Regions from separate parts of the Homo sapiens genome. Here all the other regions are reported to be linked to region 3. Evidence: microRNA targets listed by miRTarBase, many of them from high-throughput screens and not tested one by one. Region 3 holds a microRNA gene; each other region holds the end of a gene's coding sequence. Distances are between the middles of the regions.
The links. Region 3 holds the annotated microRNA hsa-miR-149-5p (UCUGGCUCCGUGUCUUCACUCCC, at 842-864, opposite strand). A microRNA usually pairs through its seed, bases 2 to 8, with sites in the 3' UTR of a target mRNA and lowers its output. Matches are read on the target gene's strand: a 7mer-m8 pairs with bases 2 to 8, a 7mer-A1 pairs with bases 2 to 7 and ends in A, and an 8mer does both.

Region 1 (3,111 bases), not on the chromosome of region 3:
GGGAGCAGCATGTGGAAGGGCACAGAGGCCAGAGTGGGCTTGGGGCAGCAGTGGAGTGAGGCCACCAGCTGACTGTCAGGGTCTCTCTCCCCAGGTGATGGGGAGGAAGTACATCCGGCTGTATTCCCCGCAGGAGTCAGGGGCTCTGTACCCTCATGACACGCACCTTCTCCATAACACGAGCCAGGTGGGCACTGGGGGTCTGGGGTGACGTTGCAGGTTCTCCCCACTGCCCCTGGAGATGATGACGTCCTTTGCTTTCTTCAGGTTGACGTGGAGAATCCCGACCTGGAAAAGTTCCCCAAGTTTGCCAAGGCCCCATTCCTGTCCTGCATCCTGTCTCCTGGAGAGATCCTGTTCATCCCGGTGAAATACTGGCATTACGTGCGGGCTCTGGATTTGAGCTTCTCGGTCAGCTTCTGGTGGTCGTAGCCAGGATAGGAGCTGAAAGGGCCTGACATGCAGACAGCATTCATCTGTTCACTAATTTCCTGGGTCCTGGAATCTATAGAGACAAGCAGGACTGAACCTGTGTCCTGAAGAGCCTTCACTGCCCAGTGGCAGCCCTGGGGGGCTGAGCTCCAGCACTGGACAGGCACAGAGCAGGGGCTGCCCAGGAAGGAGCACACTCCAGGCCAGGGGTGCATGGCAGAGGAAGGTGGGGAGAGCCCAGAAGGACATTGCAGACAGACAGCCTGCATGGGGACTCTGGCATCAGAAAGCCGAATGTTTTTGGGAAACGGGTGGGTCACACAGGCAGGGGTGAAACATGGGCTCTGAGGTTGGCTACCTGATTCAAACCCGGCCGCGCTGTGCACCTGCTGGGTGACTTGGCCAGGATCCCCCACTTCGCTGTGCCCATATGGAAAAGAGGGCAAGGCCAGTCCTCACTGCCGAGGGCCGAGAAGGCGGTGCCGAGCCCCTGCTGCTGCATGAACCTTAGCCGCTGTCACTGATCCCAATTACTCTGATCCTTTTGCCCTTCCTTCCCATAACGGCCTGCTGGACGCCACAGCCTGAATACTGGAGAGAGCTGGGCATTGCCCAGGTCACAGGAGAGAGTCCGTAGAGACCTGCGCAGGAGCCGGGACCCCTGCTGAGCAGTGGGAGCTTTCTGTCATCCCCATGGCTCAAGGATAACCTACCTGCCTGCAGAGAAGTGCGAAGGTCTTGCTGGATGACTTTTCACCCGCACTCACCCAGGAGCAGGCTCCCAAGTGAAGAAACCACCGAACCATCACCAGCTCCTAGAAGCCTCCCTCCTACCACCTTCTAGTCACCATCCCCCAGAAGTAATGACTCTCAAACCTGGGGGATTTGAGGCCAGGGGGAGAGCCAGGCTCTATGCTTTCTGTAATTGTGTCTCGTTTGTGTGCACGCAGGTTTGTTTTATGTTTTGGCCATTAAGATTTTCCCCAGCCCTCTGTTTTTTGTTTTTTAAACTAAATAGAGATGGGATCTTGCTATGTTGCCCAGGCTGGTCTTGAACTTCTGGGCTTAAGCAATCCTCCCACCTTGGCCTCCCAAAGTGCTGGGGTTACAGGTGTGAGCCACATGCCAGCCTTGGCTTCTTTCTTCCCCGCTTCTAAGATAGGCCTGGGGAAAAGAGCCCTGAGGGTTGAGCTGCCATCCTGCCAGCATCCTGCCACTGGCTCAGCTGCTTGTCTTTTAGCCAAAAATCAAGCAGCCCCAGGAAAGATTCTGGTTGGCCAGGAGGTAGCTACCCTGGGGTAACTAGAAGGGGGATGGGAAAGTGGCTGTGGGCAGCTGAACTCCAGCTCCTGATGCCCTCTACCCAGGCCAAGGAATTTGACTTTATCGTGTAGGTCCTGGGGTTCTCAGCCTTTGAGCAGACACAGCAGAATCTGCATTCTCGAAAGCTGGCTGTTGGCAGGGAGAGGCCGTGATACTCATCCTGGGAGTGGGCTGCCGAGGGGCCATGGGCGTGCTGGGGAGTGACAAACACAAGAGCTATCTGGAAGCTGAGTCCACTTGGCTCCGTGGGCAGCTGTTTGCAAGGACATTGTTTATTCCCTGCCATGGTTAATAGTGAATTACCTAATCTTTCACAGGAAGAATTTACACCAGATGTCAACACCCCTGAAAGTAGCGAGGCATAAAACAGGGACGCCCTCATGACTAGGTTCGCCATTAGTGAGGAGGGGTGGCGGCCCGGCCACAGTGGGCTGTGACTCCTGGCCCGCCTGTGTAACTCAAACCCCTTCCCCAGCTGAAGGACAGGTGGACTGTGGCCCCAGCTCCCAGTGCCTAGCCGCTCCAGCTGGCAAGCCCCACGGCCCATCTGTAGTGTAGCGTGACAGAAAGCTGGGCACGGGAGGCCACGTTCATTAACGTGTGGTATCCTGGCCAGGTGGCTTCAAGCAGATGTCCCTTGTCAGATGAGGAATGGGAAAAGGGGAAATGTCCTGCCCTGTGGGTGAGGACACGCAGCATCTGGAACTCCTCATGAGGGTTTTGAGTGAGTGCTAGTGTGCGTTGTGGGACGTTCATGTCGGTGTTATCATGCAGGGGTTGGAGGCAAGAGAGACAAGCAGCAGGAGGGCTGGTGTCCCCAGTGGCCAAGTGCCCAGAGGCTTCCTGAGTCCCCAGCCAGGACTGACTCGAGCTCAAAGAATGAACAGCCAGAACCACAGGACAACTGGGACAGTCCGGAGCTGCCCCGGCCCCTCCTGCAGGCATTATTTGCTAGTTGGCTTTTTGCCTTCTGGCGTCCATCTTCCCGTCTTCCAGAACGGCAAGCTGACTGCATTCTGGAGAATGACCTCTGCCCCAGGGATGCGGTCCTGGAAGGTCTGTACATCAGCTCCTCCCTGGACCGGCATCTTGAGGGCGTGTCGGGAGGAGCTCAGACAGGCTGGAGCCGACCCCCTGTGGCAGCAGCGCCCGCAGTGACAGAATTGTCTTGACATCCATGACCCTTATTCCAAGGTCTCCCATTCTAGACTGGTCCTGCCTTCCTGTCATTTCTGCAAGCCACCTCATACGTTTCCAAAAAACCCCTCTTTAGGTGAGGCCGGCCGGGGCTGGCAGTGGCTGAACGTACTGGGCTTACCAATGGGCGTGTCTCTGCCCACTGACGAAGGGCTGGGC
Region 2 (3,111 bases), not on the chromosome of region 3:
ATGAGACAGACAAATTCATTCTGATTTTGTCAGTGTTCACAGTAAAAAAATGGCAACAAAGCTACCAAAGGTACCTGAGACATTTCCTCCTGGAAGGAGTGTCTTGCAGTGGTCATTTCCTTCTACTTCATTCTTCTCTTAAACCCCTCATCATTTTTTATCTTCTACGTAAAGCACCTAAAGATGTGGATTCTCAAACTTCTTTAAGAGCCAGTTAAAGGTAAATTAAATGTTGTTGCTCAACTTTCAAGGCTAGAGTCAAATTTGGTTCCAGGTAATTTCATATTACAATACTCATGCTGTACCAATAATAGATGCCAGATGAAACTGAATATGCATGTTAAGTTTTAAAGAACGCCTTGAGGCAAATACTTTTCTTACTCCATGCAGCTAATTTCTGATTGGCAAAGAACAGCACTAAGATCAGTCACAATATTTCCTTGTTTACTTATTCCTTGGATAAAAAATTTAAGCGCATAAATTCTTAAACCATGTATTAAATTAATCTCTAAGAGTCTTGGAAACATTTCTGTGCCTGTTTTGGCAGTGTATCAAAAGGGAGTTCATGCTAAATACTTTGTTAAATCTATCCACTTCTCCAGTGAATAAACTGTATACCATTTTAAGAGATAAGGTTTAGATTATTTTTGAAAATGCCTTTTGGCCTGGGGTATGCCCGCTATTACCTTTGCTTAAAAACTTGGGTTCAGGAAATTTCTACCTTAGAGAAGTAAGATTCTCTAAAAGAATGTTTCACTTCCTCATGGATACTTTATGGGGGCATTAGCATGAAGTGAAGAAATTCTTTGAAGTTTCCAGAAAGATGGGTCCCAGGAAGCTTAGAATTTATGCATAAGTAAATGACTTTATGTCCTTCTATTTGAATGTAACTTCAAATCATAATCATCAGTTGAACACATGTTGACTTTGCTTCACAGATTTGCCAGCATTCCTTTATTTTCCTGTGTGTCTGGCTCTCTATTATTACTTCAATACAGGTTCCCATAGACAAAGCCCCCAGCCCCTCCCGCAAATACAACAGGCGTTGTGGTCTCATAAAATTTTCAGTCAGAAAAATACCCCAAAATAAGCTTTATTGCAAGAAAAGTGTCATATTTGATACACAGACCTACAAAAACAAACAAAACCAAAAACCATAAGTTTTTCCTCACAAACTCTTGATTACAAATTTACACTGTTCCTTTTTTCTTTTTAGTTATTAAAAAAACAATAAAACCTCAAAATACTGGGTATAACTGGTTACTAATCTTTGGTCAGCACAGGTTTGAGAGGAACAACCAGGAGCCTGCATGTGCTTTGGCCATTTCACATATGAGGTTTGGTCACTGGTCCAGGAAACAGGTTCTTGGGTTGAGAAGAATAATGGATACGTGCTCTTAATAGCACATCCTGGTACAATATCTTTTTAAATGACTAAAGCAAACTAAACATCAATTCATTGTACAAACATCTTTCATACACAATAGGCTATGATAAAATGAGGCATATGGTGTATAACTACAGTATTAATGAAAATTCTAAAAAAAAAATGGGTTTAAAACAACAACAACAACATATATTCCTTGGCTGCATTGCATGATTTGTTTGCACATATGGCAATCCTGAAATAACTTGAACATAATAAATGCACCATTATTTAAGACAGCACGAAACACCACAGAATGCCAGGTGTTCCCTTTCAAGGGAACGGCGGTTCTTCAGCTGCCTACAGTACCATGAGGACGCAGCGCACCCTGGGTAAGAATGAGGTGTTGTGGGTAGCACATATGGTTCCTTGAGGTTATGAGAAGGAAATACAGTACGGTTTGGCCTGCAATGCTAATGGTCTCACAAGCAGTCAAGGTATTTTGCTACAGTGGTTGTGCTTCAACTTCTGTTGCCTGGTGTGTCTGGTGATATGAAATGTTGTCACAAATGAGCTGCTTTGGCTTCGATCTACGTTATAAAGGATCTAATGACATTCATGTTTTTTAAATTATTGATTACACTGCCCATTCAGCTCTGTGTGGCTTTCTTTAAAATCATCAGGTGTGTATCAGCTGGATGACTGGCAGAAAACCAAAGGAAACATCTCTTGTATCTATTGGATTTTTAAAAAGCACCTCTAAAAAAAATAGCTCAAATTTATAAATCTAAAGAAAAACAAGTGAGTTTCCCTTTTTGTTTACATAGTTTGTTCATTTCTCCATATATTACTGCATTAAAAATAAATAAACATCTATATTTTTTTAATTAGCAACTATAGCAAAATACCCAAAGTGTTACAGACTGCTAACAGGAAAAAAAAAAAAAGCTCACATTATTTTTGTGCATTTAGTGCCATATGCTGATATCTTGAACATTTAGGTTTCTTTTAATATATTTTAAAATGAAGTTATATAAAAAATACAGTAACCACGGTTGCCTTTGTGCTCAAATCTTTGGCCATACCAGAGTCTAAATTATCCCTCCCTGTGAGGGTCAACATTCAAAGTCTAAGACAGGGAGGAAAGAAACAAGAGTTATTATTATTTTTCCTCTTTAAAATTAGTCCTTGACTTTTCAAATGCTTCTGCAGACTGGCTGTGCTAGGATTTGAGCCTGGGCCCAAGTCTGTGAAGGGTTAATAGAGCTGAATCTGCAGCCTCATTCTGAGAGCCTCCCCAAGCTCCCCTAGGAGGTAGTCATCCTCATTGCTCTCTTCCAGTTTCTTAAGCTCCTTCTTCTTGTAGAGAGGGATGCTAGTGATTTCCAGTGTGTATGTGCCGGGCATGAGCTTCTTCTTGGCCGTGTGCAAGTAGCTGAGCCCATTCCTTTGGTGGATGCGGAAGACGCTGTCATCGTTCCCTTGAGAGATGACATAACGGATGTGGTTGTTGAGGGGCTGGATGGCGGGCCTTAGTTCCAGGATGTGCTCCTTAGAGCCGAGGTGGGAGAGGTTGAACTTCATGTTGACGGGGCTGTCCATGTCGACACTCTCTAGGCTGATCTGTTCAACCTGGAGGAAGAACAGGAAATGATTTGGGACAAGCTTCTACAGCACAAGCAGAGGACTAGAAAGAGATCAGCTGCAGGGGCTTTGGTCACGAGGACAGGCTGTGGCTTCCCACT
Region 3 (3,111 bases):
GGGAAGGCGCCCTCAGGCAAGAAGACTGGGACACAGGTACACTCGCCAGGGACCATCCTTCACTCTGCAGCCTTTATTCACTGATGGGATTCTGCCCCAGTCCCACCCCCGTGGGGGCAGGATTTAGAGCAGGAACCGCCCCTCCGGGTCCTTTCCTGGGGCCTGTGCCAGGCTGAGCAGACTCAGGAGGCGTCTCTCCGAGGGTGTGGGCTGTGATGGGGCCCTGTGCACCCATCCAGGCTGCCCAGACCAGGAGAGCACAGGTCAGCCGGACACATGATGGTAATGGGCTGGGCAGTGGGAGGGAAACGTGCCTGGGGGAGGGGGTGGCAGGTGCCAGCTGAGCTTCCCGGTGACACACCCTGGGCTCAGCTGAGATGGGCTCAGCTGTGACGGGGCACCCAGGCCAGGCTGGCTGGGCCACAGGAACCGAGTGAGCTGGTCCAAGACTCAGGACTAGGGCTCAAGCACTCCTAGGGAGGAGGGTGGGTGGCGTCCCCCGCCGGCTCCTCCTGTGCCCCTCCCTCGCGAGGTCCCGGCGGACCCACTCCCCAGCCCCCACCACGCAGACGGGAGAGGCTGACGAGAGGCATGGAGAGGTGAGGCCCGAAACACCCGTAAGATATGGGAGCTCCCCCCACCTGCAGGTTCTGAGGGGCTCCTCGGCGCCGTCAGCCACCTCTCACACCCCCTCACGGCCGCGCACCGGCCCCCGCGCCTCAGCCTCCCCCGCCGACCCCTCAGCCCCGCCCGGCCAACTCGCCCAGCCGGCCCGGCGACCTGCGTTGTTCCAGCTGCCCCAGCACAGCCCCCGTCCCTCCCTCCCTCCTCGGACAAGCACGGGAGTGAAGACACGGAGCCAGAGCTCGGGCGCCGGCCTGGGAGCCCCCGGCAGGCTGGACGCAAGGCGGGCGAAGGCCTGGGAGCCTCGGGCAGGCTGGATCGAGGCGGCCCCCTGAGGCCCGCTGCAGGCTGGACGCACGGCAGTCAAAGGCAGGAGGCCTCCCGCTGGCTTCCTTCTGCGGAGCTCCGGCCCGGCGCAGGCCGGGGCCACAGGTTGTGGTCCTGGACATGAGATGGCAGAGGCCGGCTCTGCAGAGTCCCCCTGCAGGGCGGCAAAGCAAGCCCCCTCCTGGAAGAATGCCAGGGGCTGGGGCCTTTCTGAATGGAGAGCAATGTGCCCAAGACCAGCTGTCATCTTAAATCTCCCCACCCAGGGGCCTCCCCACCCCCAGGGGCCTCCCCACCACTTCTCTCAGCTCAACACCTGGGGATAGAGAGGCCTCAGGCCAGGAGGGAACCCTCCCCATGTCCCTCTCCCTCTCCTTCCTGGCCTTTCTCCTCCTCCAACCCAGAGGGAGGCATTTTCCAACCTAGGGGGTGAGTCCCGGCAGCCCATCCCCTTCCCCCCGTGCAGGGAGGCATCTGGGCCCTTCCGGCCCACCCCTCCCTCTGGCCCTGGGGCTGCTCAGGTCAAGGTCACCGGGCCTGCTCCCCGCTGGGCCAGGGACTGGACCCTCTCTTCCCTGATCCCTGGGCTGAAGTTGCTGTAGCCGACCCATCCTTCCACAGCGCTCCCCTCCCTCAGTCACTGGGACACTTCCCTTCCCCAGTGCTCTGAGGATTTTTTTGGGGGGGAAGGGGATTATTTGTTTAATGGCAGATTCATCCCCCACCTCAAACCCAGAGTCTCCAGTTCCCAGGCTCCTGCTCCTCAGGTTAAAGCACAGAGCTCTTGCTCCCTGGCTCGTAGGCAGCTGCTGTCTCGTTCCATCTTCCCCCTCCCGATCCTGACGGTTCTGGACCACCCCACTCTGCTGCTCCTCACTAAGCCCCCACCAGCCTTAACTTTGGATACCTTTTAGGTCATGCATTCTCGTCCCCTGCTGACATGTCCCCACCCCGCAGTTTCCTCTTGGTCATCAGCACCTTCACCCCAAAGCTTTAGGCGAGACTCCCATCCTGACAGTGGCCCCCATCCCCAATGATGGACCCAGACCTCATTTGTCCAGACCCAGCCTGGCAGCTGCCCGTGACCAGTGGCTCTGGAGCCCTCCCAAGGAGAATGCAGAGAGATGATGGCGCCACGCCACGCCCATCCCTCCAGAAGCTTCCACGGCTCACACAGGAGGTGCAGACTGTAAAGCCGGCTTTATCCACCTTTACAGCCTCGTCCTAGACACTCAGTGTCAACAGACTCGAATGCCTAAGGTACCGGAATTTGGCGTGGACAGTCAGCCTGCATTGCCTCCCACGGTGCTGGAGTAGGGCTGTGTGCAGAGCTCCAGGCACCGCAGCCCCCCAACACGCAAGGGAAGAGCCTAGGCCTCCCCGCTCCTGCCCTCTACTCAGCTCTGCACCCGGCAACGGGGCCTTCCTGGCTGGCCGATGGCTGCGAAGGCTTTCCCCAAGCCCGAACCCTCTTCTCGAAGCCTGCCCCAGCCCCTGGCCCATCTGCTCTCGGACCCCAACCAGCTCCGGTGGCTGTGGCATCCTCCGGCACGTCCAGCAGCCTCCTGGGGTGAGGGTGCACTGGACAAACGACCCAGGGGGTTTCCTGGGGACCACCCACTGCCCAGGCTGCAGAGGATCTTTTCCTCACTTTTGCCCCATCCTCTAAGAAGCCTGCGCCCCTGGCCAGTCCCTGTCCGCCTGGGCTCCTGACGTCTGAGCCAGAGGCAGCCTTGGCCCCACCTGCGAGGTGGACCGGCCACGGCATCTCAGCTCCTCGTCAACGGCATCCACGGCCCCCAGACTCACCCCATCGTGCTTCCCTCCCCTCCCCACACCCCTGCCGTCTGCCCGAAGCCCCCCCGCCACCATTTCACCCAAATGACAGCGTCGCCAAGGAGCCCCTCCGCCGCCGCAGAACCTCCGCCGCGCACTGCGACCCGAAACCGAGGGGCGTCGTAGGGACACCTCTGCCCCGGGTGGGAGGGTCCGCGCCCCAGGCCGGCTAAGGCTCCTGTCACCCGCGGCTGCTTGCGAGGGCGACAGGCGTGAAACCGGCCCCGGCGGCGGAACAAAGGCTCGGCGGCACCGGCGGCAGCGTCGCCGCCCTGGGGGTCCCGGGCGCCCCGATGCCAGTCGCCAGCCGCCGCGGCCAGGGAC
Region 4 (3,000 bases), 39 Mb from region 3:
TTGAAATGACAGAGTTTTAGAAACTGAGCTCTTTGTACCTGGCCAAGGGCTCTGATCAGCAAGGTGCCCCTGTGTTATCTACCCAGTGCAGTGCTTCACCAGGATGGCAATAAAAGTATTTTAAGTCAGTGAGTAATGAGAAACCATGATGCCCTACCAATTGGACTGGATCAGCTTGCATGTCAATCTAGTCCACTGTAAGCTGGAGAAAGTTACATGAATTCTCATCGACGGCCTCAGCAATGTGCCTCAAGTGTCACTGTGAGATCATTCCCTGCTTCCTGGAGACATGCATTAGCAGTGAACTTCTTCCAAACTTCCCTGTCATCACAGTCAAACAATTTTTGAGACACACCAGAAACACCAGGGAAAACAGAGTCCTCTGTACAAGTCCTTAATCAGGGAATACTCAATGTTTTTCCCTGATGAAGGACTTGTACAGGGCCACTAGCTGCTCAGGTTTATATGCCTCCTGGGTCATTACGAGATCTGAAGTCTAAGTTGTACTTCCCAGACCTGGAAGAATACAAAGGCAACTATGCCCATGGCAGTTACATATTATCAATGTAGCCAGCTTTCCCAAGTGCATTCCACAGCAGCTCTAGCCTTCTTTATTCTCTAGGATATATAGCTTTCTATTGCTGCCATAAGCAATCACCACCAATTTAGCAGCTTAGTCAACATACACTTGCTATCTTACAGTTCTGTATGTCAAAAGTATGACATGGGCAGCACCAGGCCAAAACCAAGGTATCCACAGAGCTGCCTTCCTTTCTTGGCTCTAGGGGAGGATTTGTTTCCTTGCTCATTTGGGATACTCATAGAACTCAGTTCCTTGTGGTTATGTGACTGAAATCCATTTCCTTGCTCATTGTTGGCCAAGGGCCGTACTCAGCTGCAAGGTCATCACTCTCCTTGGCTCATGGCCCCCTCTTCCATCTTCAAAGCCAGCAATATCATAACTTCTGACCTCTCTGACCACAGACATAAAAGGCTTTCTTCTCTGCTTTTAAGGACTCATAAGATTACACTGGACCCTTCTGGATAATACAGGATAATGTCCCCGTTTTAAGGTTCATAACCTTAATCATATCTGCAAATCCCTTTGGCCAAGTAAAGTAGTATATTCACAAGTTCCAGGGATTAGGACATGGACATCTTTAGGAGACATTATGCAGCCTACCACAATCCCCCACATTGGCAGCAGCTTTCTCACATTTCTCTTTGATGACACGGCTCAAGTGTGCTAAGCCTTGGCTCTAACGAGCATGGCTTCCCTGAAGTTTGCTGACGGGGAAGATTATGAACTCCTATACTGCCAGCTTATTGCCAGATTGAGAACCATTGCTGGTCACAGTGAAAGCTGGAACTAGCAGGATGCCTTCAGAATTGCCAGCAAATTCACAATTCTGTGACAGCAGGGAGAATCCCTTTTCGGCAGCTCCAGCCTTACAAACAGCAAAAGAGATTCCCAGTATAATGTTCACTCCAAATTTAGACCTATTGTCAGGGTCAACTGTCTCTATCATCAATTTGTCAATCCTCTTCTGTTCTATAACATTCAGGTGCTTGCTAATCAGGGCAGGCTCAATAGTTTTATTGATGTGCTCAACAGCCTTTGAAACATTTTTTCCCATAGCTAGTCTTCTCCTCAACTTGAGCTTTAGGGTCTCATATACAACAGCTGAGGTACCATTGGATATAGTTCTGAAGAGATCTTTCCCAGTGCAGGACCCATCTCAAGAGGGGGATTTCCTGGAAAACCAGAAACCTCTCTGACAAAGAGCTGGAGAACAGAGATGGTGAATTTCTACTCCTATTTCTTGTCACTCAGAAAAAAGGGACAGAGGAAAGGGTACTGCAGATGTCAACTGGGAGCCCACAAGCTCACAGGTCTCTCCTTTATTCCCCTGAGCCTTGCCCTGCTCAGCCTCTTTTGCTACATAGATTTTTAAAATCTCCCTCTATGATCCTGATGTACAACCAGATATGAGAACCACTAGTACAGATTATAATGAGAAGCAACTTTTTAGTTACTTCTAGGTAAAAAATTTAGGTTATATAATTTTTCAAACAAAACATACATTCCCTTTTTATTGGTCATAATGTAGAGCATCTTTCAAGCTAAATTATATTATAATTATTACATGATACTCAATCACTAAGCCAGTTTCAGAAAAGACAAACTTCATATTTCAATTTATTCAGTAAGGGGAGGTCAAAAATGAAGGCTTTTTTCCCTTCTACCATATTCGCTAAATTTATGTTTAAACCTGATATATATTTTATAACACTATTTAAGTTATGGCTTTTTCTAAACCAGTGCTTTTTAAGGTAATAGTTATAAATACAACTGTTTTGAGAAAATAGGAAATAAACACTTTCACTTGCTGGTTTCTAGTTCATTATTCCCTTTGTCATTAAGATGATAATGCTAGACAAATTAATGTTTAGACATAAACAGCAAACACAATTTTAACATTTTTCATAATATTGAGAGATGTTTCAGTATTATATAATCAAAAAATCTATTACAAATACACATGTATACATCTTATAAAAATACATTTAAAAACAAAAATGGGACAAATACTGGGTCATTATTCCTCCAAAGGTGAGCTGGTATTATGAAGAGGCTTTGATTTCTTTCTCTTTATCAGGATATTCTTCCACCTCTGAGGAGAACATTAACTCTGGAGAAGAAAATGAACAGATCATACTTAAAATTGTTTCCCAGTACCTCCAACAGAGTTGTATAGCTTATTTATAAATAGTCCTTTAAAAAATTGACATAATATATACTAATAGAAAGCCCTCAAGTAAGATTTCTTGACAGTGAAATATGATTTAAAAGGTAAGCTGATAACAAATGTACAAGTTTTACATTTTAAAATATTTAAATTTTAAATTATAGACCCCTTAAAAGTAAAATGTAATAGAGACAATATACACAATCCTACCTGGAAATTTAAGTCACTTAGAGAATCAAAGATCATTAAA

Region 1: miRTarBase lists KDM8 as a target of hsa-miR-149-5p. Seed matches in the 3' UTR shown: 7mer-m8 at 1,333-1,339.
Region 2: miRTarBase lists FBN2 as a target of hsa-miR-149-5p. The part of its 3' UTR that is shown has no 7-base or 8-base seed match.
Region 4: miRTarBase lists TMEM237 as a target of hsa-miR-149-5p. The part of its 3' UTR that is shown has no 7-base or 8-base seed match.

Annotation. Positions count from the first base shown.
Region 1 is chr16:27,220,299-27,223,409 of GRCh38, forward strand. It overlaps KDM8 (lysine demethylase 8), which reads left to right. Exons shown (of 8, transcript NM_024773.3): 7 at 95-187; 8 at 268-1,470. The coding sequence ends at 432. Among named protein-coding and RNA genes, the nearest start is that of KDM8, 18 kb to the left of the region's middle. RefSeq lists an enhancer at 2,097-2,782.
Region 2 is chr5:128,256,832-128,259,942 of GRCh38, forward strand. It overlaps FBN2 (fibrillin 2), which reads right to left. Exons shown (of 65, transcript NM_001999.4): 65 at 1,078-2,998. The coding sequence ends at 2,624. Among named protein-coding and RNA genes, the nearest start is that of SLC12A2, 170 kb to the left of the region's middle.
Region 3 is chr2:240,453,768-240,456,878 of GRCh38, reverse strand. MIR149 (microRNA 149) reads right to left here and starts at 878; the gene lies at 790-878. All of the region lies in intron 1 of GPC1 (glypican 1), which reads right to left. It overlaps GPC1-AS1 (GPC1 antisense RNA 1), which reads left to right and starts at 179. Exons shown (of 3, transcript NR_161169.1): 1 at 179-282. RefSeq lists an enhancer at 928-1,578.
Region 4 is chr2:201,621,630-201,624,629 of GRCh38, forward strand. It overlaps TMEM237 (transmembrane protein 237), which reads right to left. Exons shown (of 13, transcript NM_001044385.3): 13 at 1-2,693. The coding sequence ends at 2,626. It also overlaps the pseudogene ENO1P4. Among named protein-coding and RNA genes, the nearest start is that of CATSPERT, 4.0 kb to the left of the region's middle.